4 separate regions of the Homo sapiens genome follow, and regions 2, 3 and 4 are each reported to be linked to region 1. The links are microRNA targets in miRTarBase. Many come from high-throughput screens and were not tested one by one. Region 1 holds a microRNA gene; each other region holds the end of a gene's coding sequence.
Evidence for each region. The annotated mature microRNA hsa-miR-3152-3p reads UGUGUUAGAAUAGGGGCAAUAA and lies in region 1 at 2,334-2,355, shown strand. An mRNA with a match to its seed (bases 2 to 7 or 8) in the 3' UTR can be bound and repressed. Matches are read on the target gene's strand: a 7mer-m8 pairs with bases 2 to 8, a 7mer-A1 pairs with bases 2 to 7 and ends in A, and an 8mer does both.

Region 2: miRTarBase lists RAB23 as a target of hsa-miR-3152-3p. Seed matches in the 3' UTR shown: 7mer-m8 at 1,652-1,658.
Region 3: miRTarBase lists RTF1 as a target of hsa-miR-3152-3p. Seed matches in the 3' UTR shown: 7mer-m8 at 4,548-4,554 and 7mer-A1 at 3,830-3,836.
Region 4: miRTarBase lists EEA1 as a target of hsa-miR-3152-3p. Seed matches in the 3' UTR shown: 7mer-m8 at 2,103-2,109, 7mer-A1 at 3,979-3,985 and 8mer at 5,820-5,827.

What each region holds. Positions count from the first base shown.
Region 1 is chr9:18,571,017-18,578,140 of GRCh38, forward strand. MIR3152 (microRNA 3152) reads left to right here and starts at 2,290; the gene lies at 2,290-2,363. ADAMTSL1 (ADAMTS like 1) reads left to right here. Exons shown (of 29, transcript NM_001040272.6): 4 at 3,014-3,250.
Region 2 is chr6:57,183,986-57,191,109 of GRCh38, reverse strand. RAB23 (RAB23, member RAS oncogene family) reads left to right here. Exons shown (of 7, transcript NM_016277.5): 7 at 510-4,118. The coding sequence ends at 649. BAG2 (BAG cochaperone 2) reads right to left here. Exons shown (of 3, transcript NM_004282.4): 3 at 1,277-7,124. The coding sequence ends at 6,920. Among named protein-coding and RNA genes, the nearest start is that of BAG2, 15 kb to the right of the region's middle.
Region 3 is chr15:41,479,321-41,486,444 of GRCh38, reverse strand. It overlaps RTF1 (RTF1 homolog, Paf1/RNA polymerase II complex component), which reads right to left. Exons shown (of 18, transcript NM_015138.5): 17 at 6,120-6,231; 18 at 2,882-5,864. The coding sequence ends at 5,758. LOC105370790 (a long non-coding RNA gene) reads left to right here and starts at 76. Exons shown (of 3, transcript XR_932169.3): 1 at 76-215; 2 at 1,766-1,950; 3 at 6,954-7,018. RefSeq lists an enhancer at 2,722-2,771.
Region 4 is chr12:92,769,721-92,776,844 of GRCh38, reverse strand. EEA1 (early endosome antigen 1) reads left to right here. Exons shown (of 29, transcript NM_003566.4): 28 at 1; 29 at 712-6,208. The coding sequence ends at 834. PLEKHG7 (pleckstrin homology and RhoGEF domain containing G7) reads right to left here. Exons shown (of 17, transcript NM_001377329.1): 17 at 4,390-6,757. The coding sequence ends at 6,650. Among named protein-coding and RNA genes, the nearest start is that of PLEKHG7, 70 kb to the right of the region's middle.

The DNA of each region.
Region 1 (7,124 bases):
GAACCTAAAGGTCTTAACATTTTAACTTCATTGGTTTACCTTTGACTGCCTTTAGGTCCTATTTTTCTTAGGAAAGGTGGAAAGAACCAACACAATTTATTGAACAGAGGGGAATCATAGGAGACTCTGTAGAGGTTTTATGTCTGTACTAAGATGATATTGCATTATCAATTTAAAAACATAATTGACACTTTTATCAGAATTGGAAACGTGCAGAAAATTTTCCCTGGTTCATATTAAGAGGTCTCTTAATTATATCTTCTGCTCATTAAGGCAGAGGCGATTCAGCCTGACCCTTCTAACTGTTTCACTTGTATAGAAAAAGGAGGCAAAGGAAATTTTAAGAGGAGTTTGGAACCATTTCAAACAATTTCCTCAATGTTCTGCTTTATTGTATTTCAGTATAATGAAGTACTGTACCCCCAGTACAATGTACTCTACTTCTTCTGTACTTGTACTGAGTAATCAAGTGACTCCTGGGATGATAGGTACTATCAAACGAAAATACTGTATTTAAACATTGCTAAACTGTCAGTTCAACTTTAGACGCTCCCATTCAATGACCAGGAACTTGTGGATCATATAAAGGTAGGTTTATTAAACATGCTAAGCAGGAGAGAGCAGCACCTTGACAGAGACTCTATCGTATCTCAAGTGGGGAAATTTAAGGAAGGCTACGTGTAGAGTTTGGGGGCAGTTGTTAGTTATAGAGTTGTTTTAGGGCAGAAGTTAGTAAGTGAGGCCTAGGCAGATATTGGTAGAATTTGTAAATTAGGCAAGTGGAAGTCTTATCTTTGGAATGTGAGTTCATTAAGACAATATTAAATCAGTTTCTCTGTGCTCTAGAACATATGGTCTGAAAGGAGCTTGTGTTAAACATTTAAAGTTGTTTGTGGCCAGTTGCGGTGGCTCATGCCTATAATCCCAGCACTTTGAGAGGCCAAGGCAGGTGGATCACCTGAGGTCAGGAGTTCGAGACCAGCCTGGCCAACATGGCAAAACCCTGTCTCTACTAAAAATATAAAAAAATGAGCTGGGTGTGGGGGCACATGCCTGTAATCCCAACTGCTCAGAAGGCTGAGGTAGGAGAACTGCTTGAACCCAGGAGGCGGAGGTTGCAGTGAGCCGAGATCACGCCACTACACTCCACCCGGGGAGACAGAGCGAGACTCCTTGTCAAAAAAAAAAAAAATAAAGTTAATTTGTATTGTATGTCATGATTTGACACAATTTACCTGTGTTGTAATTCATAATATAGTTTTGCTGGTTGTAGGTAGTTTTTGTTTTATTTTACAAAATAAACGTGTAAACAGCCTGTATAGCACACATATTTATTTATTTATGGATCTTAAAAAATTTAAACTGCATCCTATTATCTAAAAAATTAATAATTGGTAAATTTTATTCATACTCTTTTCAGACAATATTCAAAATGTTAAGCCTTGCTGGGTGCCTGTGTATCTGTACCTATGTTATATACATTATTCTTTTCCTCTGCTACTATGGTTTATTCACTCTGAGAACACATAATACTAACAGTAAAATGTCTTTGACATTTTATATTGTATTTTGAACAATTTCATGTTCATCCTAAATAAATATTTGTTTCTACCCCACATTGCCTAGAAAGAATTTGTGCTCCCTCAACTACCAGAGCGTTATATGCTCTTTAGTAGTATCACTAATGTTTTGGAAAAGAGTCAAAATTTTCAGTGCTGTTTTAGAATGCTTATTTAAAGGTAAAGAGATTTTTCAGAGAAAGAAACCTTATATAAGAGAACTCTCACAATGATAATGTAGTAACAGGGAACTGCTGAAGGCTACATGGAAATCCTTTATTTAAAACAAAAAATTAGAATAAAAGCCTTTCTACAGCTGGAGAGTCGACGACAGTCTTCCATGGTAAATTTTAATCTGAAGGCTTGTAGAATAAGATAAACCTATCAAAAAGCCCTTCCAAGGGATAGGCAATATTTGCCTTTTTAAAATTAAATCTTACCTGCTTTTACTGAGATTTATTATTCATTAGATAATGGCCATTGTTAGCCATAGTTTTACATTTTAAATTGCCCTTTATGAAACTTACATCAAAAAGATTCTTATTTTCCACTGATCTCTAACAATATAATTTACAATTCAAATTGAGAGAATCTCCTCATACTCCATCCCTTTGCCTTCTGTGGCCTCATTAAATAATCATAGTAATAGCTACCATCTACTCAGTATATTCCTTGTGCATATATTTGGCCAGCATGAGTTCGTGAACTTCTCACAACAACCTTGAGAGCTGTGCAGAGTTATTGCCTCTGTTCTAACACAAGACTAGGCTTCCCTGTGTTAGAATAGGGGCAATAACTCTGCACTGCATTGCAGCCACCCACCCATCTAAGGAGGAAGTCCATGCTCTTTCCATTCTGCCATGCTGCCTTAAGCCAAAGCAATTCATATATAAATGGTTTCATATTTTTTGTTCCCCATGTTTAATTCTAGATACTATGCAACCTAAGTCCTAGACAAAAAATTACAACTCCACAAAAACTTTTTGAATGAAATTTTTATAACTTTTTACTGCTAGTTATTCAAATAAACAATTGTCATAGCTCTCAATATCAGAACTGAAAGAGACAAATAATTTCAACTAATCCTCTGACTTTACTAGGTTCTACTTATGAGGAAGTCAAAATGATAGTACAGTGTGGAAGAATTCATGAACCAATAGACAACTTTCAAAAAATGTATGTCCCACCTAATCAGAATATCTATTTCAAGCCAATTATTTTTCCATTTAAACTCAATCAGAAAATGTATTTTGAGGTGATTGCTTTATCAGATTTCTACATTTTGCAAGCCAAATAATCATATAACCTCTAAGATGATATTATAAGTTCCATCTATCATGACCAGGACATTTGTTTTGCTTTCTAAGACCTAAGCAGACCATATAGCTGCTCTGGTTTCATGTTTGGGGGTATCCTCCTAACCTTTGTATGTCCTTTCTCTCTTTTTTCTCCAGGACTGCCCACCAGAAGCAGGTGATTTCCGAGCTCAGCAATGCTCAGCTCATAATGATGTCAAGCACCATGGCCAGTTTTATGAATGGCTTCCTGTGTCTAATGACCCTGACAACCCATGTTCACTCAAGTGCCAAGCCAAAGGAACAACCCTGGTTGTTGAACTAGCACCTAAGGTCTTAGATGGTACGCGTTGCTATACAGAATCTTTGGATATGTGCATCAGTGGTTTATGCCAAGTAAGTGCTGATTTGTTCTCATTCAACTTGTCCAGAGGGTTTCAATGTCTTTGTGTAAATGGTTTACATAGTCTCACTCTCTGAATCACTCATCTTTACACTTTTTAGAGTTTGTAAATGGTGAAAGATTTGAAAATTAAGGTATGATTTCAGTGAAAAGTACCAAGTGTTGTATTGTGCGAAGGAAAAGTAGACTAGAGTTATTTTTCTTTCCTTGAGTGTCACTTGAATATAAAAGAATAAAAATTTTTGAATAGTGTTTATCAATTATGTACTAGACTTTGAAATTATCCCCTGGATTGGCTATTCCTGAAGTGTGTGTTTGTGTTTGTGTGTGTGTGTGTGTGTGTGTATTTAGAGACTGGATTTTCATTGACTCAGTTTCAGAATAAATCAGGTAAGACCAATTCTAAAATCCCCAAGTAAACTGTAGGAAAACTTGCTACTTTACTATAATTTCCATTGTATTGAAAATTCAGACACACTGTAGAGAAAGTCATGGAAGAGCCAGCTAGGTTGGACTTAAGCCAGTTAAATCTTTAAAACAGGATTACAAAAAGGTTTGATTTCTGGTATCCATCCATTCATCAATGTCTACTCTAGGTAGGGAATTAGTAAGGTGAAAAAGGGTTTGTATGTTTGTCATGTCTTTGCCATCTTTATTTTCAGGTCCACTTTTTGGATTAGGATTACCAGTCTAGTTTTTGGAGCAAGCAGTTGCTATTGTTTTTCTGTGTGCTGTATTTGACTATATGCTTTTATATTTCATGAAGCAGACACAAAATTTTGAGAGTATTTGCCTTTTCCAACATGGTGTCAGCTGAAATTTTCTCTCTTCAGAATGTATAATATCACGGCTAGGAATGTAAGAGAAATATATGTTTTAGTAATTTGTTGTTTCAAATTTATTTTTTTAAAACTTACATCTATATTTGGATGTAAAGGCAAAAACTGTAGTGTAAATGACTATAAGAGATGTGAGATGTCAGGCAAGGTTTTATGCATGCAAGAGGGAAACAAACATAGTCAACCTTCCTAAAGTTTAAAATCATGAGGCAGAGAAACTGATGTCATATAGGAGTTTGTCACTGATGAAACATATCTTAAGGTTTCCTTATATACAAGAGATATATGAATTTCAGGTGTAAATTTGAATGTGGAATTTTACTATTTTAAAGCTAGAAAGGGCCTTAGAGTTATTCAATCAACATTCTAAAAAGCAATATATCTGAATAAATCATTTCTGATCTTTGCTATTTACTTCCTCCTCTAGGACTCTTAGTGGTAATGAAATGGAATTAGGGAATCTGAAAAATCTTTAGGAATAGTAGAGAATTGTAAAGCAAATAGATTTAGAAAGGGGACTGTGTTGTAGGGAATGGCAAACAAAAGAATAATAACTCCCTATGTATGTATACTGTTTGAGTAAAAGCAAGGAAGATTTCCATTTTAGAAGTGAAAAAACTGAGGACCAGAAAATATGCTTGATCTCCTGAAAGCTGTATGTTTGGTCATGCCAGAAATGGGACTAAATTCCACATCTCCTGAGATCCCATTCAATGTTATTGCTACTATATTACCCTGCTGAATGAACCAAAATAAACAAGACAGCTCAGCAAATTAGGTTTCATTTATTTCTTTTGCATGGGAGTTCAACGTGGCATATTTTTTCCTAAACTAATCCTGCCAGCAGGCCTCATGGTACCTTAGCAACTGAAAGAGAATCCTATCTCAGTTGCTAAGGAATAAATTTCATATATAATAAATATGGAGTGATAGTACTGGACTTTGGGTTACAAGTATAAACATGCTTTAACTTATATTCTTATGAGTATGACAGATTTGAGAGCAAATACGGTATAATTTGTAAATTATACCGTATTTGAAAAGCATTGTAACTTATACGTAGAAATAATGACTGGTTATTATTATTATTTTCTTCATTTATTTGTCTTGTTAGAGGCAATCATGTAGTAAAGGCGATGGAAAAACAAAGATTGCATTTAAGCACTAACAAGAAATTTAGTTTGGCTGGAGAGCCAGATAAGACCTAGCTATGCAGTAAGAATAGGGAGGTAGTTTGGGAGAGAAACATGGAGGCTTGAACGGCAGACAGGACTGTGGTAAACCATGGATGACCATAGTCTCACCTTGATAGAAAATGACAGCATAGCTATAGAAATTTGTCATTCATATGCACTAATTTATTTCAAGTATACCTGTTTAATACTCTTCAAAGAGCCACATTCTCAAGACTGGTTCTTTAACTCTTAAATAGAATCACAGAGTCCTGGACTTTTTAGAGCCAGAAGATAGCTTAGCAACTCACAGTTATTGCCGTTTCATAGAAGAGGAAACTGAGACCTGGAGACTGTCCTGAGATCACGAATAATTTGGGTGGCATGTGTTTGTTGTAAATTTCTTCAGGAAAGTTCTAGAATCATTGCTATTTATAATATATACCTAATTCTTACTCAGTAGTAATAGAGCATCATACGAGGTAGTAGTAGTAATGATAATAGCTTCCATTTTTGAGTGACTACCGTATCTAGGTACTTTATTTTTTTTTCAAATATTTACAGTTCTGCATGTTAGACATCATTATCCTTATTTCACAGATGAGGAAACTGGAGGCTCAGGTCGATTTTATATCTTGCCCAGAGACTCCCAGCTCTGTCTGAGTTCAAAACTCCTATTCTTTCCAGCGAGGCCAGGTATACAGAGGCGCAGACCATTTGGTAATGGTCCCCAGATTTGGCTGCCTATCAGAATCACCTGGAGAGCTCTTAAAAGACACAACTCTTAAGACCTGTCTTCCAGAAATTCAGATTTATTAATTCTATGTATTGAAAACACTTTTCTTATGATTCTATCATGGCCAGATTCACTTACAGATTGGAAAGCAGACAGAATTTAAAGTCAAAAGACATGAGTTGGGGCCAGGCACGGTGTCTCATGCCTGTAATCTGGGCATTTTGGTAGGCTGAGGAGGGCGGATCACTCGAGGTCCGGAGTTTGAGACCTGCCTGGCCAACACGGCGAAACCCTGTCTGTACTAAAAATACAAAAATTAGCCAGGCGTGATGGCAGGTGCTCGTATTCGCAGCTATTTGGGAGGCTGAGGCAGGACAATGGCTTAAACCTGGGAGGCAGAGGTTGCAGTGAGCCGAGATTGCACCACTGTACTCCAGCCTGGGTGACAGAGCAAGACTCCATCTCTAAATAAATAAATACAACATGAGTTTGAATCTAGCTCCTCTTTAACGAGCTGTGTAATCTTGGTCAAGATACGCAACGTCCCTAAGCTCCATTTTTCAATCTGTGGAAAATGAATTGTCTCCTAGACCATAGTGTACCAAAGTGAGAAAATATATGTGAAAATGTTTAATAAACTGTAAAGTGCTGTAGAAATGTAGAAGACTCTGAAAATTTTAAGTTGAAAAATATATTAAACTAGTGGTTCCCTGTATAAGATTTTATAACTGTAACGTTTCAAAAAACTTCCCAGGATGTGACAAGTAACAAACTTCTTAATTGGTTAGGTAATGACTTTAAAAAAAACAAAAAGAGACCTTCTACCATGTACTATCCCCATCATCATTTCACAATTGAAACGTTCATCACAAGGAAGTAGTAAGAACCCAGTTTCAGAATAAAGGACAATTCTTTGAACTGGAGATAGTTTGTCTTATGAGAAAGTTACTGCCCTTTACTTTTCTCTTTTTTTTTTTTTTTTCCAGAGCACAGAAATTGTCACTAATAGCACTTCACAGCCCAGCGTTTGAAAGCAGGGCCTTTGAGATGATCTAGTCCAGCCCCAGCAAATCATTGTATGATTTTCCCAGGATCCTATGGCTAGTTAATGACAGACTAG
Region 2 (7,124 bases), not on the chromosome of region 1:
AGGATAAGCAAAATGTGGTATATACATACAATGGAATATTATTCACCCTTAAAAAGGAAGGAAATGCTTCAGTGTTCTACGTTGGATGAACCTTGAAGACATTATGCTAAATGAAATAAGTCAGTCCCAAAAAGACACTATTATTCCATTTATATAAGGTAGAGTAGTTAAAATCATAAGAGACAGAAGATAGAATGGTGGTTGCTAAGGTCTGCAGGGAGGGGGAATGGGGAGTTAGTTACTGTTTAATGGGTATGAGTTTCAGTTTTAAAGATGAAAAGAGTTATGGAGATGGACGGGGGTGATTGTTCCACAACATTACAAATGTATTTAATACCACTGAACCGTATGCCTAAAAATGGTTAAGATGCTAAATTTTGTTGGATTTTACTACAATTTTAGAGAAACTGTAAATACTTGAAAATATTACTGATTTTACTAACAAGCTGGATGCAACAGGTAACTCAGGCGTGTCAGTGGCAATCACTCTTTTCCCTCAATTTATACAGGTGTCTTTAATACATCTGGTGGAAGTCACTCCGGTCAGAATTCAGGTACCCTCAATGGTGGAGATGTCATCAATCTTAGACCCAACAAACAAAGGACCAAGAAAAACAGAAATCCTTTTAGCAGCTGTAGCATACCCTAAGATGTTTTGGGAGGAAAACAATTGAATTACATTGTGCAATGCATTAAGAAACCCATCCAGCTGTCATGGTATGTTACAAGGTTTTCAGCAGACTTTGCTCCTAATGGCTCTCTGAAAGTGACAGACTTAAATATTGCTCTGCAGTGCTTTTCAGAATGTAGAGTGAGACCTCTGGTGGAAAAATTATTGCCCTGTGGACTCCTTTAATTTTTTTTACATTAGACGAAGCTTCTCCTGTTTGTAAAGGAATGCTATAAGAAATTTCAAACACAGGTTTTGCGGAATTTTAAATGCTGGAAAACATAAATGAAATGCCTAAATATATTGTTACAGATTTTAATACTGTGGATCAAGGAAAGATAGCAAGCATTCTTTTCCTGAAATTGGTCATGTAGCTTTTCTGCGAAATAGTATTGAATCTGAATACTTTCACAAAATAATACTGAAAGGTAAACCCTAAATCTTGCCAGACTGCATTAGTATTTTGGCATTGAAACTTGTGCAATATCTGTGTAATGTAGAATGTGGGGTGTGCATGCAGATGTCTGGTACTGGAGTAAGCTGAAGGTATGTGCAGTATTTAAGAAAATGTACATTCTAATTAATTCACTTATAAAACCATTTACATATTGTGTATATGTTTTTATTTTCAAATGATAAACTCTAGACATATATTTTGCAAAATGAGCTTGGGTTTAAAAAGTGCTTTGTGCCAAAAATATCATACCTAATTTTTATAGTGCTTTACTATCAGAATTTATATTGTTTATTATATCTTTTAAAAGCAGTAAGCAGTTTTCATCTGACAGCGTAGATAAAAGAGGAGTATAGGAATTTGAATGCTAGAGCATCTCCCAGGTGAGCCTTATTGCAGATCTTTTTGATATAGTCACCCATAAGCATGGTGAGCTCCTGCTCTCATAAGGTCAGCCAAAGCCCCTTAAGAAGGTACACAGCACATCTGCAGTCATTCAGGAGGTCCTGTGAAGTGTGGTGATGCATCTAACACCTTTTGCTGCTCACTGAGAACCCAGCTTTGAACTTACAAGATTACACTAACCATTTTTAAAGTGCACAAAAATATTATTATTAGTCTTAACTAAAATTACATATTTTATAATGCCCTGCAACTCTAAACCATCCTTTTGTTTACACATTTTTGTATGGTATTTTAAGATTATCAATCACTTCAACATTTCTATAACCTTGTTTGTATAGCACTTTCTCAAGAGCTGTCAGTCCCACATACAGAATCATTTCTTTTACAAAATGATTTAATATGTAATCATGTGTCAGGACATAAATTTTGTCACTTGGGACAGTAGCTTTCCAGCTAAGATAATTGCGTGAACTCTGTTAAAACTGATTATCACTCATCAATGGCTTTATTTTTAACCTATAAATAACCCCTTTCAATATACCTGGTTTTTACAGCATTGCAAAATCTGTAAAAATAACTTTTATTGGAAAATGTCATGAAGTCATTTTTCATTATTTGTACTAAACAATGTTTTATGTACTCCTTTTGTGTTTTATCTTTTGTTTTTCCATCTGTACTCCCCTCATCCTCCTAATGTTGAGAAAATCAAATTTCCTGGGTGTGTCCTTGTTAAGTGATCAAAAGTAAATGTTCTCTTTGCCATTTTAGATGGAAAAATAAAAAAAATTAAAAAGTAAATTTTTGCTTTTCATTATATTGAAATGATCTGGCATTATCTATTTCACAGTAATGTAAAATGCTTATTTTTATGTCACCAGTTGTCACCACTCCCATTGCTGATAGTGACATAGGTTTTGGGGGCAAAATTCAGTTCCTAACAAACAGTGGATACTGCTAATGAGTCATCTTTTCTACTCTCTTCAATTTTCTACTCTCTACTCTCCTCTTTAATTTTTGCACAAAATAATACTTTGCAACAAATAGTCTTTTGTCTTTATTGGCAGAAAAATCACTTGTTATATGTGTTCTAGTTAGTTCTTTTTCATGTTAGCTGTGTGGCTAAAAGCGTGTTACCTTTCTATATTTAAAAAAAGTAATCTCTGAGGATAGTTACAGTTCCTGTAATATAATTTTATGTACCTAGTTTTATCTTTTTTTAAATAAGAACTGAAGAGAGAGCTTTGTTACATATTTGAATTTTTAATTTGCACTGCTGTATTTTAAACCTAACCATAATTAGTCATTTAAAATAATTAAGTAGGCCTGAAAGTCAGCCATGTTAATTTCTCAATTTAATCAATTCTTAAAGCCTTCAAAAATTGACATTTTTTTTCCAAGACCCTTCATTCTCTTAAATAACTTTAATTTTATGAAACCATGTATACTAAAGAAAAACTTTTCCAAGATTCCAGGTGATTGTGCATTTGTGCTCTAATCTACTTTTTTAACATTACGGCTAATCTTTTGCGTAGACATATCGCTGTGGAATAACTGCCATATTTCAGAGTTCCTCAGGTTTCCTTTTCCTTTTCCAGTCTCTGTCTATGAATTAAATAGTATATAGAATGACCCATATAAGGCAATATAGTTAAATAAAACCAGGTTAAATGATTTCCTTTGTATCTGCCCAAAGTTGATAGCACACGTTACTTTTTCAAAATAAAGCTAAAACTACCAAAAAGAGGATGAAAACTTTTTCCTCATTATGGAGTGAAGTTCTAGGTGGTTGCTTTAGAAGTTGGCAGTGCAGTGCTCAGAAGGAACTCTCAATAAATAACATGTACTCCTTGGACCTGTGAGTTTTAGGAAACTGGACCTTTTCTGAAGACCTTAGAATAGGGAGTTGGCCTTAGGACCTAATGTCCCAACTTAGTGTTGGACCCTTTTAATATAAGATATTGTTAATTATTAGCATACTTTTCAAAACCTTTGAAATAGTTACTGCTAACCTGATAAAATGTTCCCATTAATCTATCATTAGTCTGTTTCTCTGAAAACAAAATGCATTGATGAGGTGAAAGCTTGTTCCACATGGCACCTACCTAATGAACAGGACTTACTCAGTTTTTAACTGTTAAGAATGTCACATGTACTATTGTCACTCCTTAGGTTTTCAGCTATAAAACATGTAAGTCTCTCATCATACAGATGAATTCATTTGCTAACAAAATATTTAAAACCCGCAGTAGACTCTGAAATATCCAGTCATCAAACTCCTGGCTAACTGGATGATTTGGCTATAATAATCTTTATTATTATTATTTTCATCTGTCTCTCGAAATATCTACAGTAGGATGTTAGTAAATGGTCTTTTAAAAGCAAAAAATTGGGGATAAAAGGAAAACTGAATTCCTTCTATATTTTTATTACTAATAAATAATGCTTTTGTAAATTTGAATGGAAAACCACTTGTATGTATTGCTATTTGGTTGCAGTTACACTCTGGAGCTTAATTTAAAACACTACTCTAAAAATTTCATGAAGGATGAATTCCAATAATCAGAAAATAAATGCATTTCAAAGCTAAAATTTTGTGTGATATGTATGATTGTATCAACAGTGTGGATCTAAATAGTAAAATATATAATGCAACTTCTTTAAAGATCAAAGCAACCTAAAATTATTTCATATTTCAGATACTCTGCCAATATTTAATACTCTCATTTTATTGAAAGTAGTGCTAACAAGGAATGGCAGGAGGGCTACCCTAAAATTATGTATTATATGCTAGGAATGGTAGAGAATTGAGATACAGCAAAACATACTCTATATCCACTTATAGTCTATATAAAAGACAATAGTTTAAATGAGGGTAAAAATGTGACTCAGGAGATTCATCATCATTTGAAAATAAATTATACTCCCATTCTTATAAATAAAAATACATGTTAAGAACCAACCCATTGGCCAAGCGTGGTGGCTCATGCCTGTAATCCCTGTACTTTGGGAGGCCAAGGCAGGCAGATCACAAGGTCAGGAGTTTGAGACCAGCCTGGCCAATATGGTGAAACCCCATGTCTACTAAAAATACAAAAATTTAGCCGGGCGTGGTGGTGGGCGCCTGTAGTCCCAACTACTAGGGAGGCTGAGGCAGGAGAATCGCTTGAACCCGGGAGGTGGAGGTTGCAGTGAGCTGAGATCACACCACTGCACTCCAGCCTGGGCAACAGAGCAAGACTCCATCTCAGAAAAGAAAAAATGAAACCTCATGAAGTAAATGAAACTATAGAAACTGCCTCCATAGCATATATTCAACACCAAACGTCTACAAAATGTTTGTTCTCTTCCCTTCACAGTCTCTTTTCCCTAACTCATATACTCCATAGTGTTCCTTGCTACAGTGGATATGTCTTCTACTTGTCAGACAGCCTGGGTGACAGAGCAAGACTCCAAAACAAAAAACAAAAAAACAAAAAACCACACTGGAGATTCCCTGCCCTTTAGATGTGGCTCTAGGTACAGAATGCTGGAGACACTGTAAACCAGGGACCCCAAGCAGCTTGGAAATGTGGATCATAGCTCTTCAAGTCTGTGATCAGAAATCAATGACCTCCATTAAAAACTCCATTGCAAAAAAATGGGAAAAATAATGCTAAGAATACCAAGGTCAAGGAGGCAGAGCCAGAATAATTTGTGTAGAAAAAGTCCTGGACTGATGTGGAAGCCATGGGAAGCAGGGAGCAGTAGTATTTCCCAGAGTGGAAGGGATTTACGGATGCTGACAATACTTGAGAACCTGAAGAAAACATGACTATCCATTTCTTAATTTTCAAAAAGCTGGTCAAGAAAAAAATGATGCACACAAAAAATCATCTCACAGTCTGATGACAGCAAATCAGTCTGCTAACAAACCAAGTGGCTCTGCCATAGATAGAATTAATGTTTCCCATGAAATGCAAAGATTTAAATAAGGCAGAGTTGGAGCTGGCAAAGGAAGTAACATGAATGTCTTCAGATTGTAACTGCTTTTTATAAAGAGACTAACTTGGCATTTTTGTAGAGAAAATGAAGTTTGATATTGCTTGCATTGAGAGATATATACATACATAAAGTCAGTTTGGATCTTGATTTGGTTTTTCAGTGTGAAGAATACCTACATTCAAATAAAAATTGATGTGTTCATTTCAAAATAGTATCCAGGGAAGTTGTTGTGGTTTTTGTATATCAATAGGACTAGTTACTTTGAACAAATAAGTGTTCTCTAGTTGCTTCACACTTTATCAGATAAAAGAAGAATCAACACACTGGTCAACCTTTTTAGTAAACAAAATGCAAACTAGGTATTAATGCTCAGTGCTGGAAATATTTCAGTGAAATAGCTATATTTTAATTACTGAAAAAAGTATAAATTGCTGTAACCTTTATACAAAAAAAGTTTAATATGTGTGAGGCCATGAAAACGTCTATATCCTTTGACCCAATATAATTCACTGCTGGGCCTTTATACAGAGAAAAACAAAAATGAAAGAAGGAAAAAGTCCTGTGTACAAAAATATGTTGCAGTAATAGCAACAAGTTGGAAACAACCTAAATGTCCATAAAAGAGGAATGGATAAAGATATAACTACACAAAATAGAGCTCATTAAGTTGACAATTAAGCAGACTTTATATCAGCATCTAACTTTTTTAAAAAAAGGCAAGTTACAATATAGGAATTTTAGAGAATTGATGCATTTGAGAAAAGATGAAGCAGATAGATATATAATTGTTCACAGTGGTAAATTATAGGTGGTTTTCTCACATTTTATGTCAGTTTCTTGTATATCAAAAAATACATTCATATTATGAGACACAGGAATCTTTACATCCAAAATAATTTGATACAGATGCCTTAACATTGCTGAATGAGACAACTTTGGAAAGATTCTTGTTTTGTGATTCCTTTTTACCCTCTAAGCACAGTGCTTTGTTAACACTGTGTGTGTAGTAAATGTGTGTGCTGCTTAAGGTAAAGAATTTCTAGTAAACTAAATGCCCAAGGTGACTGCGTGATTCCATGCCAGACAGGAAAAAGCAGTCATGCTTTTTGCCCCTAGCTGAACGTTTGTTTTCCCCACAAACTATGTATTCATCCACAGAATAGTGAAATATGCTAGATCCTAGTACAAGACAAGAATTCAATCTAAAAAATCTCTAGATAGATAATTAAAATATTGCTAGTTTTGTTATTCACAAAACTGAAGATACTTGATGGAATATTTTCCTCATCTGAAACAACTATCAGTGTCAACTAAGTGGTTATACCTAACAAAGAACTAGTTATCAATTAAAATAGTATTTTATCATTTTTACACCTTGTGTATTGTGTAAATGCTCTTAGGTTTGAAGACTAATTGAATCTGCTTTCAGCATTTTGTTGCAGAGTTTTGGAACCAGCTCCTTTAGAATGCTCTAATAGCTTGATGGCCTTGTCAGAGTTTTCAATATTTCTAAGCAGAGTCTCTAATCTTCTCTTAATTTTCTTCTGATCTTCAAGAGCACAGCCAATTACTATGGATTGAAACTTCTGATCAACTGGCCCATGTGGCACCTCA
Region 3 (7,124 bases), not on the chromosome of region 1:
CTGGAACGCAGCGGCCGCGCGCCTCCTCCCTTGCTGCGTGGACTGGGCGCTAACGGCGCAGGAGGCGCACGGGGCCAGGGATGCGGGGACCGTTGGCGCGGACAAGGGTGGCGCCCAGGCCGGTGCGGGGGGTGGTGGAGACACCAAGCGGGGAGCGCCGAAGGGCTCTCCCGGCAAAACTGATGGAGTCAACCTGAGGCTTCCGGGCTTGCCAGGTGAAGGGCTGTGCTGCATCGCACGCGCTTAGCGAAGCAGGGCTATCCATGGCTAAAAGAGAAAAAGAAATCAAAAGTATTCGATTAAAAAAAAAAATAGAGGCCGGGCGTGGTGGCTCACGCCTGTAATCCCAGCACTTTGGGAGGCCGAGGCGGGAGGATCACAAGGTCAGGAGTTCAAGACCAGCCTGGCCAACATGGTAAAACCTCACCTCTACTAAAAATACGAAAATTGGCCAGGAATGGTGGCACATGCCTGTAATCCCAGGTACTTGGGAAGCTGAGGCAGTAGAATTGCATGGACTTGAGAGGTGGAAGTTGCAGTGAGCCGAGATTGCGCCACTGCACTCCAGCCTGGGCAACAGAGCGAGGCTCCACCTCAAAAAAAAAAAAAAAGAAAGAAAGAAAAAGAAAAAAAGAAATGGAGTCTCGCTATGTTGACCAGGTTGGTCTCGAACTCCTGGCCCCAAGCGATCCTCCCTCCTCGGCCTTTTAAAGTGCTGGGATTACAGGCAGGAGCCATGGTGCAGGGCCCAAAAGTATCTATCTTTTGAAGAAGTATCAAGGTAATCATCATGGGAAGGGTCAGAGCTTTGTTGTGCTTCTTTTACACTTACCTTCTGGTTTGGTACTATTGGTGCTATTTTGAGTATTCACTACTCTTGGGGGTTGTGGGTAGGTCGGGCCTCAGTTGGGGCCAGCTGGAGGGTGGTAAGGTGGCAAGCCTTCAACGCCTTCAGAAGCCTGGTCAGTAAAGGTGGTGTGCGTTGGCCTGTGGGGAATGACAGCAACGAGGGCCTGGCCCAGAGGCAGCACACTTTCTCTGGACGCATCCCTAGGCCAGCCCAGGGTCTCCCAGTGGGAGCCTCCATCTGGAGTCAGGGTTTCTTCCCCCCCTCCCAACCCCAGCCCAAGTGGAGTTTCTGGTCCTGCCCACTGCCCAGTGCTTCCGCCCTCCATCAGCCCACTCCAAGGGCCGTTCCTCTCCTCCAGGGTCCAGCGGCTTCACTCTCATTAACAACAGCATTTATTGGACCCCTACTGGGGACAGGTTGTTTTTTGAAAGGTGGAAAACTTGTGGCTCAAAGGTGTTAAGTAGCTCAGCCCTAGGTAATAGCAAGTGGCAGAGCGGGGATCTGAACCCTTTCCCGAGCCTGGGTGCCTTTTGGCTCTTGGCCCTCCCTTGTATCCTGAGCATGGTCTGGAAGCCCTAGACATGCCTATCTATGCTCCAGTGCCTAAAAGCCGTATCTCCATGTTCCCTGGGGCTGGCCTGTGGAACCTTAGAGAAGGCATGCCTTTTGGCCCTGTCTTAGCACTGCCATTCCCTTCAGCTCCTTAACACCCTCCTTGCCAAGGGAGCTCAGCAGTCTCCGCTTAAGTCAGGGAAATCGTGAAAAAAATTTGAGCTGGGAGTTGATGGCTTCCTAAGGCTGCTGGATCACAGCCACATTATAGTTACTGAAGGAAGATCTCCCTTCTGGAAAAACGTGGCCAGGGAGATGAAGTTGACCAACCCAGCACCCTTCTTCTCTCCACTTGCACCCCAGGTGTTCTTTCTGGATTCTCAGAGATAGGTAGCAAGTGGCTGCCCCACAGCACCCAAATCCTGGAAGATAAGCAAGCTATGTTGTCATCTGCCCAGAACCCCTGCTCTCTAGGTCCCACTGCTCCCACCAGTTAGGTAGTGGGAGTGCTGGGGAGTTGGAGAAAACCTCATTGGACGCACTTGCAGGTAAGCAACCTCTCCACCACCAGAAGCGGTCTTGGACGTGGCTCTTATCACTGTGATTGCCATCCCTTGCCTTCTTAAAGGGTGTGGAAGATCCAGGATCTTCTTGCTTCCTAGCTAAAATGTGTTCAGAAAGGTTGGAGACACAGCCTCAGGCACTGGGGATGGGGAGGCCTATAGACCTCCCCAGCATGAGGGGTGCGTGGATGAAGGAAGATCAGTGTTTCCTCCATAGCCACACTCATGGCCCTTGGGCACCCCCTTCAAACTCATGATAGCCAGAAAAAAGAAGAGCAAAGAAACTGTGCCTAGGCCAATTTAAAGTTGAAAGGAGCTGAGCACAGTGGCTCATGCCTGCAATCCCAGCATTTTGGGAGGCTGAGGCGGGAGGATCACTCGAGGCCAGGAGTTCAAGACCAGCCTGGGCAACATAGCAATATTCCGTCTCAACAGAAAATTTAAAAATTAGCTGGGTGTGATGGTGCATGACTGTAGTCCCAGCTACTTGGAATGGTGAGGTGGGAGGATCACTTGAGCCCGGGAGGTTGAGGCTGCAGTGAGCTGTGATTACACCACCGCACTCCAGCCTAGACAGCAGAGACCCCAGCTAAAAAAAAAAAGGTTGAAAGGCCCAGATTCTCACTAGGGTTAGGCAGTACATCAGGGGTCTACTTAGCTCTGTTAAAACTTATTGGTCTCTTACCAAGACAGGAAGTAAACCAGGACAACTGGAGGTTTCCTTGGGTCTAGGCAACTACCCTACCAGAGAGGCTTCCGGGGAACCAGGCTGCTAAAGAGTTGACGATGGCCACTTTCACTTTTGTGGGCACAGGGCTAAGAGAAGAAGGAAAAGGAGCAAGAGAGGTTCTCTTGGACTTTCAAAACATGGCTTTAGGAGTTGCCACTCAGGATGCAATCCTTAGACTCAATCTGATCCCTTTGTTAAAATGGCATAACATTTATTTACAATATTGGTACAGTTTGAGTGGCAAGTCAGGACTTCACAAAAGCAAAAACATTCTTTTTGAAGGGAGTGGCAGGCAGTAGACTTTCCCTACACCTGCCAGAAGCAAGACAGACAAACAGACCTATAAACATTATGAACTAGGCAGATGGACACTGGCCTTTTTGCTTCTTGGAAGGAACTGAAAAAATGCATAAAAACAACCTTGGGTGCTGCACCCTTCAACACTGAAACCACACTGTGGAGGGAGGAGGGGCCCAATGAGGGAATTCCCCAGCACAAGAAATAGTGTGAACCACCAAGAAATCCTAGTTGGTAGGACAAAGCCAGTGTCTTAATGCCTGACCAAGATCTTGGTTCAGAGGCACTGCCTCAGCTGAGATTGGAGACAAGTCCTTAGTCTTGGTCCCAATCACTACAGAGGCTACTCGGGTGGAAAGATACCCTTCGGTCTTCTTTGGTTGGCTTTTCTCCCTGCTGTGTGCATTGGCATCTCGTGGGGGTTTCAGCGGCTACATGTGGGGAGGTGGTGGCAAAGTGGCTACAGTGTGATGCAGTTTTAATAAAAATTTTATTACACAGCCATAATGTAATCAACACTTCTCCAAATCCAAATGATACTAAATACAGATCTACATGGTGGATCAGAATGACTCCAGCGAATTATCTGGATTCTATAATTTTATGTTTTTTAAAACCAGAAATCAAAAAAAAAAGTCCAAGTTCATCATGATAGGAGAGGTCCCAGCAGCTCCAGGACTCTGCTGAAGTCCAGGCAATGTTAACAGTCTGTGATTCCACATTTACACAATAGTCTATAAAGAGTTTCGGTCAATGGACTATTCAAGTATATATGATTTTAACGAGTCCATCACCACTCCTTTGCCCAAGTGAACTGTGTCACAGCTACCACAAAGCTGTGTTACAGTCATATTTAGCAATTTTACAATCATAATACTCCTTTAAAACCATCCATTGCTGCTTTAAAAATAAAAAAAAAGTAAACTAAGTTAAAGCGACACTGAGGCTCTACTAAACCCAGAAGTTACCAAGTTCATTTTTATGTTTAAATACAACTTACAAGTCCATGATTTCCCATCGTCCCCCTTCCTTGTACGAAAGCAGGGTGAGGAAGTACAAAGCAGAGCTTTTAGATTAGTCTCTCGTGGAGATCGGAGCTCTCAGCTGTTCCTTTAGCTTAGCTCTTGGTATATATAGTCAGCTGTACTTTGTTCTGAAAGATTTGTTAAATGCCACTTTTATTTACACTTGGAGCTTTACACCTGAGAGTGATTATCAAGCAGTCAGTTTATCTCTTTTCAAACATTTCATAAAGACATACACACACCTCTGCTGGCTTCGCCCTAGCTGCACAATATATATGCTGACCATATATATGTATACACACACACAAAACTGCACATGCTTGAAACATTTGCAACCTAAATCTTTTTGAGGCGGAGTCTCACTCTGTCACCCAGACTGGAGTGCAGTGGCACGATCTTGGCTCACCACAACCTCCGCCTCCCAGGTTCAAGGGATTCTCCTGTCTCAGCCCCCCGAGTAGCTGGGATTACAGGCACGCACCACCATGCCCGGCTAAGTTTTGTAGTTTTAGTAGAGATGGGGTTTCACCGTGTTAGTCAGATTGGTCTTGAACTCCTGACCTCAGGTGATCCACCCGCCTAGGCCTCCCAAAGTGCTGGGATTACAGGCGTGAGCTACTGCACCCGGCGTAACCTAAATCTTTTTGTGTTTGCTCTCCACATTCATATTCAGAAATTTCTCTTAAAAACAAAATGTAGTTCTTGCCAAAGCAGCAAAACAGAATCACCAGGAAGAGGCTGGTATACTGGGTGAGAAAAAGAAGTTCTACGTTCAGCCAAGAAGCTGTGGGCTGTACCCATGGGAAGAGCAAGACATTCACTGCCCTCCCTGGTACCTGGCCATGGGCTTCCCTCCCACACCTGCCAGGACACAGCCTGCAGGTCAGGGGGCTAAACTGGGGAGTTTTCTCCAAAGTTGGGAAAGGATGGGAAGAGTAGGTGGGAATGGGGAAGTTACACAGCTACAGCAGTCAGGCCTGTTTAGTAAGAAGAATCACATTTAATGAGTTTCTTTCTTGCAGTTTCAGATGCTCAAGTACAGCTGAAAAAAATCTGAAACAGCTATAGACCCATGACAGACTGATACAAAGAGTACTGCATTTTAAAAAAATGATAAAAAAATCCACACACTTACACACACACACATACACACTCTCGCTCTCAAATTAGACCCCCCCCCCCCACAAATGTACACTTTTTGGAAACTAAACTGGTTTTGAAACCCCTTCTTCCAAAAAGAAGGGCAGAAGAGAAAGATGAAGAGAGGAAAGAGGATCGCAGGTGCCCAATCCCCGCTCCCCCCACAAGGTCACGTGCCGAATGTTCAATGGGTGGGCCAAGGCAGTCTGTAGAGGAGACCGCCTGGTGCTGCTGCTATTGCCCCAGGGGCTCCAGCAAGATTCCCAGCTCCATGGTAATACTGAATGCGTGCAGAGTGGCCAATGAACTGCGCGGTTAAAAAAACAAAAGGCAAACACAAATCTAAAGACATGGATAAAGCCCAAGAGAGCCCAGGCCCACACTGGGTGGGGCCCTGGGGGAGGGGAGGCTGGTGGGAGATGGTGTGCAGACAAAGGAGGTCTATACAGCAAATGGTTTATATTACAGATGACTGGCAGTTTAGAGTCTCTTCCCAGTTCAACAGCTGCTCCAGCCCAAAGAGGCTAAATCAAAGGAAAGGAGGAAAGGTGGGACGCTGCGATGGGGCATGCAGGGTCAGAAGCAGCAGGCTGGGTGTGCTCAAATAAGCCCTCGTCGTTTTTTGTAGTCTTCCAAGTTCAGAGATCTCCTTGGAGCCCCATCCTTGGCTGGCGGAGCCTTGGAGGTGATGGCTAAAGCCTTTGACTCTGTGGGAAAGAAGAGCAAGTTGGCAGCTGAGGTCCCACAAAGTCCTCTTAGTCCTGTGCTACACTCCTGCAGGCAGCCTCCTGACTGTGGCCCTGTTCCCTCTCACCATACCCACAGCCTGTCTTGGCCTGGCCTGTGGATGCTGATGAGCCAGCATTCCCCTTTCTTCCCTAAAAGTGGGCTTCCTTGTTGCCCCAGAAAACCATGGATCCATCTGGTTCTCAGCCCTCACCACCCGCCCCACCCTCACATACCTGAGCTGGGAACTTGTAAGTCAATCTTCACATCAAAATCGTGTACTTTGAACAGATCTTCTGAGAGGTCACTGGCTGACTTAGAATTCAAATCTTTATCTTTGCCTTGACCCTGGAATGTGAAGAGGAAAGCTAATGGTAAGAGCATAAATGCAAGTGGATTTCAAGCAGCAGCAGCCACTAACGGTACGAAGCTCTTATTTGAGTTCATTAGATTTTCCTACTAAGGCCCCTTTCTGATTCCTTCTCTCAGAGGGAGGCCACAGACAAAGAGCTTTCTCTCCTGAAGGCTACAAGCACAGAGAAGAGGGCAGGCTTGTGTCTGTGGTATGAGTGTAGAAAGGGTGGGCTTAAGCAACGGGTCACTTCCTGACCTAAGATTTCAGAAATCCTGAGACCAGTTAGACTACAACAGGAAAAGACTTAACTTGGACAGAAAACTGCTTTTTTTTTTTTTTTTTGAGGTGGGAGTCTCACTCTTGTCACCTAGGCTGGAGTACAACGGTGCAATCTTGGCTCACTGCAACCTCCCCCTCCCAGGTTCACGCGATTTTCCTGCCTCAGCCTCCTCAGTAGCTGGAGTTATCGGAACCCGCCACCATGCCCAGCTATTTTTTTTCTATTTTTAGTAGAGACGGGGTTCTACCATGTTGGCCAGGCTGGTCTCGAACTCCTGACCTCAGGTGATCCGCCCACCTCCGCCTCCCAAAGTGCTGGGATTACAGGCATGAGCCACTGCGCCCAGCAAGAAAACTGCTTTTAAATGTGCCATTTTCAACAAGCTTTCACTTTTACAATGTCTGATCTTTGTATGTTATCTCTCCTCCTGTGAAGCTGGCAGGGTATACAGTAGTACCCTCATTTTACACAGCAGAAAAGGGGATGCTGAGGGCTGGAAGCCAGCTGCTGAAGGACATAGTCAAGGCCCTAGGCAAGTAGTGGTGTCAGGTTTGGAATTAAGGTTGTCTGTTGATTATATCTGTAAATAACTGGGATGGAGAAGGG
Region 4 (7,124 bases), not on the chromosome of region 1:
GGTAAATAATTTTGTTCATGTAACTATGTTTCTGGATTTCATTTGTCACTGATAATTAATGTTTTAACCATCAAAATAGTCCTTCATTTGACAGAATAATTTTCTGTTTATCAGTAAACTTTAACAACAACATAGAATAACTTCATGCAGTCTAGCTTTTGGTTAGCATATGTGTTTGAATTTTACTTTTAAATTCAGTCCTTGTCTTCCAACTTAGTTACTGTCTGGGACAATCATTTTCTGAATCAGTGCACCAATATTAAACTCATGTTTTAGTAATCATTGGGTTCTTTAAAGGAAGAAAAAGCAGAGGTATTTTAAAAATATATTCTAAATACTACCATTGTGTTAATGACTTAAGTTTATATTTCTTTTGGAGACATTAGTGCCTGAAACATTTGGCAAATAGGAATAGTTTTTCATTTGATAGAGATACTTTATAAAAACTTTTTAAATGCCTCCTCTGGTTCTTTTGAGAGTTCCATAATAAATTCTATGTAAAATGTTTAGCATAGTGTTTGATAAATAGGAAGCATTCAATTTAATTATAACAGAGATTAAGTTAACATATTGAAACATATCATTAAATAATATACCAATGACTTGAAAGCTAATGTACCTTCATAATGTAGTTGGTGGTATTCATGTAGTTTCATAATACTTTTGGTATAGTTTTTATTCTTGAAATTGTTTAATTTTTGTCATTTACAGCATCACTGCCGACAGTGTGGAAATATCTTCTGTGCTGAATGTTCAGCCAAAAATGCCTTAACTCCTTCCTCCAAGAAGCCTGTTCGTGTCTGTGATGCATGTTTCAATGACTTGCAAGGATAATGGGTTATCACAACTTCAGAGTAATATTACACTAACATTAGATTTTTAATAAATGTACTTAATAGAGGTCTTGGACTACTATTTGGTTTGGACACTGGTTGCAATACTAGACCAAATAGGAATTAGTATATTTTGGAATGTTATGGATATCAAGTAAAACTCTTCTATTTTTGTGAGACTTGGGCTTATCATCTTTCATTACTTTTTTCCCATTTAGCCCCTGGAATAGCTTTCATGCCAAGTTTAGAATTAGCCAATGAAATGTAAATAAACTTTGGACAGAAAATAGCAATGTATTTTTTTAATATAATTTCATTATTCACAAATGAAGAATGCAATTCCATAGCTTACTTCTTTCTCCTAAATTTAATGTACAAAAATGTACATGGATGATATTATCACTTGTTGCTGTTTTTGTTGCACAATAGCACATTAATTATATTAAATATTCTCTTTGTGAAGTTATGCACAGAACTGTAACACTTTCCTCTGCCTTTTTCTCTTATATGTGGGTTCATGGTTCAGTTGCATTGTTATGTTATGAATTTACTACTTGGGTGTTCTAAATACAGTTTATCTTAAAATATGTAGTAATATGAATTCAAAAATGGTTTTTGTTTTAACAATATTAATTAAATTTTCTTGGGTGGATTTTATAAAAACCTCTGTAAAATCAATTTGTTTACTTATAGTTATCTGGGGTTGTATTGCAAAGAATAGGGTTAATTTTTCTTTTTGTCTTTTTCTGTCTCTTTCTTAAACTCCCACGCATTGTCCATTTAGAATCTTAGAAAGCTTCTTACCCTCGCTGTCAGTTGGAGGATGAATAATAAACATTGTATAATGTTCTTATTCTCGGTTTCTTGTAAGTGGGAAGTCTTTTGAGATCAGCCTTCATATCATACCCTTATTTTGTCTCTCTAGCATCTTCAGGAACCTGAGTTTGCTTTTTACATAGATCTGATTTTTTCCTTTATTTGGTTTAACATTTTCAAGCATAGATCAGCTTCATGTATTTGTTTTATAATTTTGCATCTTAAAGCTAGTAACTAATATTGCTGTGGTCTTATTGGTGAAAACAAAATATAAAATGATAAGAAGACATTAAATATTTTACTTTCTATTTCTTACCCTATTGGGAAGAATTTTTAAAAGTTGTAAAATTGACTTAAAGTTAAAATGGTTCTGAATTTGGTGTTCCATGTCAACTGTTCCCAGTTTTAATTTTAACTTTGCAAAAATAATGTTGTGAAATTCCCTTTAAGTAACTAACACCTAGAAATAGAGTATCACCAAAAACAAATGTATTTAGGAATCCCAGTTACAATAAAAACTGAAACAGCATGGCTAAGCATCTTAAGGATAATTAAGAAATTAGCTTATTTGTATGCTGAACAATGGAATCGAACTTTAATTTAGCATAGTCTTATTAATTTGGAAAATTGTAAAACATCTCAAGAGAGAAGTTATTAATATTGGTTTATTAATCTTTCTAGAGAAGAAGTGTAGTTATACATTCATTCAGTGCAATCATTTTATAACAGTAGTTAATATTTCATTTATAATAGTTCTTAATATACATTTGCTTTCAAATATTCTGAAATGAAATTATATTCATGCTATACCTACAGTGTATGTAAACTAAAGAGATCACTACATATTTGTTTAATTATTTAAAAAAAAATTTAAGTAAACCCTGTTGTCATTAGCTATTAAGAACATTGATTAAGTCCCTGGACTTGGATAAACATATATCCTTGAACATATATAATGAAGAAATACAGTGGCTCTTTATTAAAAATAATAGTTGGATAATATAAACTGAACTATTTATGCATTTTTATATACTTATAAATCCTTCCAAATAGTTTTAATTCTATCCTTTTACATATAAATAACTTAATAAGTGTGCTGGAAAAACACAGATATTCACAGCACCACTGTTTTTTTTTTTTTTTTGAGATAATAAATTCCATGAGAAATCTGGGTTTGAATATTTGTTTACTTTGTCTCCTAATTGAACACCACTCCAGGCCTTCTGTCTGTCTCCCCTTTACCCCCAAAATACTCACAAAAAAATTTTAAGACAACAAGTAACCATATATAGGTGTTTGAATGATTTTCTCATTTTTATCTAATTTCATTTCATAAGTCCCGAGTAATTTACCTACCATAGGCTACTATACTGATAATATAAATGAAACCGAACATTTTTTGCTACTAACTCTCCCCAATTTAATGTGTTTTCGAAATAAAAATTTAAATTTTTTTCCTTTTAATTAAAAAGTCATCTTTGAAGTCCTTATTGGCTGTACATTTTACATGTTTGCTGGTACTATTATTTTGTCAGTCAGTTAAAGCTGGCATGTACAGCTCTTGGCTTTAATGAAAAGCACATTGACATAATGTTAGTAAATTCCAAACCCCGGCACAGAATGTGAGTTAAAATTAAGTCTTGCTGGGTTAGTGTACAATAAACTATACCTACAGACTTTTTTTTAATAGAAAGAAGACAAAGCTGCTGGTATAGGATTTGTTCCTTTGAAGAAAAAATGAGGGAAACAAACACAAAAACCTCAATGCAGTGTATAAATAACATTTTGTTCAACTACCTCTTAATGTGGAATTATCTACTTTAATAGTTTCCTGACAGTAATGTTAAATAGTAACTGCCAAATTTGTTATTTTCCCATCTCTCTTAAAAAAGTCTTTATGATTATTTTATATAGTTTTGAGAACTTTAAAGCCACTTTTTTTTAACCTTACATTTGCATAAAAATGTTTAGCTTTTAAGTAGAGAGCAAATTATGATCATATATTTTGATATTCATGACCTGTTTGACTATAGGAGTTTTTTTAAAAAAATGCACTTTGGCTATAAAACCATGGATGATTTGATCCATAAGATTTAAATGTGCCACCATTATAGTATTCCTAGACATGAGCTTGATGAATGGTATTCTGTAATTATAACGTGCCACACATTATTGTGTCTTAATTGCCCTTAGCCTGAATTTTAATGATCAATTTGTTATTGTTGCAGATGTGAATATTGTGCATAAACTTACTAAATTTATGTAAAATTGTATAAAATAGAATTAGAAGTCACTAAGTTCTTTCTGTGTAGAAGTAATAAATTTATTGTAACACAATGCAGTTGTGTATATGACATTCTGTAATTCCTTGAACTGGATCATATATTCATAAGTTCTGTAGATACTTATGCATGAACATTTTCTCATTTAGTTTTTGGGTTCATTATTTGTATTGTGTTTACTACTTGTGATCATGTAGTTGTGCCTTACTTTGTGAGAAAGGTTAGCTCAGTAAATACTGCAATTTCTAAACTCAGTGATTGGAAGGTTATTAATTATAAATGTAACTGATAAAGTACGTGACAGCATTTAAATCTGTATAAAGAACAATGGAAGGATCCTTATTGAATTGTTGCTTTTTTTTAATATGTTTAAATATTATATTAAAAACATTTCTTTCTAAACTAGTTGTATTCTGTGACTATAAATTGTTTTGTCTAACAAAAGAGAGAACACTGTATTAACCATTTTGCATTAATTTATTTACAGAATATTAGGACTTTGCACTTGGATATAGACAGTGGTGTTTTAATGTTGTTCAATTTCGAATAGTAATTAAATTCCTGATCTCAAGAGAAATTATTAATGCCATTTTGCCTTAGACATTCCATTTAATATTGTAGAGAATTAACAAAACTAAAAACAAATATAAAAAATATGTAATTAACCCCTTATTTCATTGTGTGTCTGCATTTAATACCCAGATGACCATTTAAAGATACTTAAAACATTATTTATTTATTTATTTATTTATTTTTCTCCCTCCCCTCCCCAAAGATACTTTTTGGAAGGCCCAATGTGCCATTGTTTTTTGCTATTTTTTCTTCCTGGGAGCCACGGTTCTAGAATGGTTTTTGTTCTGACCCCCGTGATCCCTTCATTCGAATGTGCTTCATTCTAAACCCTCCAAAGAGTTTAATGTGCATATCCTCAAACATCTAATATATTGTATATTAGACATGTTACTTTGTGAGCTTTATAGAATTCCAGTTTATGTACAGCATATTCTTGAGCTGTTTTATATATTTTGTTAATTTAGTCAGTCTGTCTCTCCCTTTAATGAGATTCAGAGGGAGAAAACTACCTTTATACATGTAAGTCTGTGGTTGCTGGATTCATGGGACTAAAGGAATTTGAGAGGCCACCTCATCCTAGTCCACTGCTCACCTCCGAGGTTAGTTTATATCTAAACATTTGCAAGATGATTGTTAATGTAAAAATTTTTTTTAACCAGAAATTTCTTTATAAAATCTTCTCTTGCATAATCTATATTGTATTCTCCTGGACATAACTGCTTTCAGTCCCATCCAGATGCCATCTCTAGGAATTCACTTGAAGCTTGAAGTCTATTCTCCCCTTTTTCTCCCCTCCACCTCATTTATTCTTAGCTATTAACAATAGTTACTGTCCTCCAGATTTTCCTTTTTTTCTTCTATTAAATTTCTGACATTATTATAAAGAGGTTATTAGTCTCCATTCTAATAGTGCTTGCCTTGTACAAAAGCCTTTCTGCTGCACTTGTCTTTACTGCTTTGTTTGCATAGTGAAATTTCACCTTCCTCAAGGAATTACTGGGCACATGACTTGCCCAAACATTATCCTCTCTACCCCATTCTTCAGCTTAACAAAATCAGCTAAGGCTTCAGTTGTCTTGCAGCCAAATTTGATAAATTTACTACTTTCACTTTGCAAATTGCAAAAGGTACGATTCTGAAATGGAAGTTTGTGGACTTCCCTTTGATGCAATAATCTGACCCTAAGAACTAGTTCCTTGAATGTAGTTAATAGTATATATCCTGCCATGATAATAATTATTCAAACTGCCTTTCATGATAAAAATTCTGAAGAAATTTGAAGTCCTGCCAAATAAAATTAAGTGACTGTACTGTGCTAACACACACACACACACACACACACACCAATCAAAACCAGAAAGTATTTTTATGGCAAACACCATCATTCTTCAAAAAATAAAGTTAAGAGACAGATACCTTACTATGTCTATGAAAATCTGTACACTTCACAACAGGCCAAGAAAAGCCATGCAAAAGTGTTAACTGGTGAAAGCCAGATTTTTTTTTTCTTCCTATCTTAAAGTAATGGAATTTAGTCTTTGGGATTTTCTACTTCCACGTTAGAGTACTATATACCTGAGATGAGTTTGAGAATAGGAATTTTAAAACTGCTACTTAAATGTAGTCCCTATTTATTGCTTTGTATATTAAAAGAACAATCAAGCTTTGTATCTAAAGATTTATCATTATGTTTGAGGTAGGACTATAAAGCGGTTAAGACTGATTGACAGGCCATGAAGGAAAATTGGTTTCATTATTTTATGGATACAGAGTAAGATGCTGGAGTTCATATTGGACATAAGCAGTGGACATTGTTTTCCTTCTGATACTCCATTTATCTGATCATTCACCCTTTACAAATTAGCACCTTTCTTCACTCACACCTCTTACAAACCTGACGGAAGCATTAGAAGGTAATCTGGATGTCAGTATATATTTGTCAAGAAATTCCTCAGAGTTCAAATTTGTTGCAGTCATTATTCCTCTATACTGAGGATTTTCCTAGCTCAAAATTTCAAATTCTGAAACTTCTTTAAAATGCAAATTTCCTTCTAGCTTATCACTAGCTAAGTGTTACAAAACTTTGAATGAAATTATACCTTAAACCATAATCTTCTAAAAAGACATGCCACTTGTTTTAGGTCCCTAAATTTCAGAGGATTCTGCGGGCAATGTGAATAAAGATATTTTCTTGGTTTCCTGACTCTTGGTAAAGCAAGAAATTGCAGTTGTTATTTGTGCCATCCATGTTTTCTGTTGAAAAAAAGAAAAAAATACATAAATAGAGATTAGAATGTTAAGCTGACAATTTCTCACATATTTGGGCTAATATTTTCTGCTATATTTATTGACCAGCTCTTTAAAACTGAAGACTAATGAAACATTTGCATATGTTTCCCATTTTCTTTCTTACATCTAATATAAATACTTCTAATCTTACAGGAAAATGCAGATGGGCTAAATGAGTATGGTATGCATGTTGGATAACAGTTATGAGTAATCAAGAAACAATAGTCAATGATAACTCATTAGAAAAATGAGCACTGAGAATATATGTAGTTTGAAAGTGGCATTGCTGGAATTTCTATTCTCTGTGGAAACAAGTTCTTAACCTGTAGTA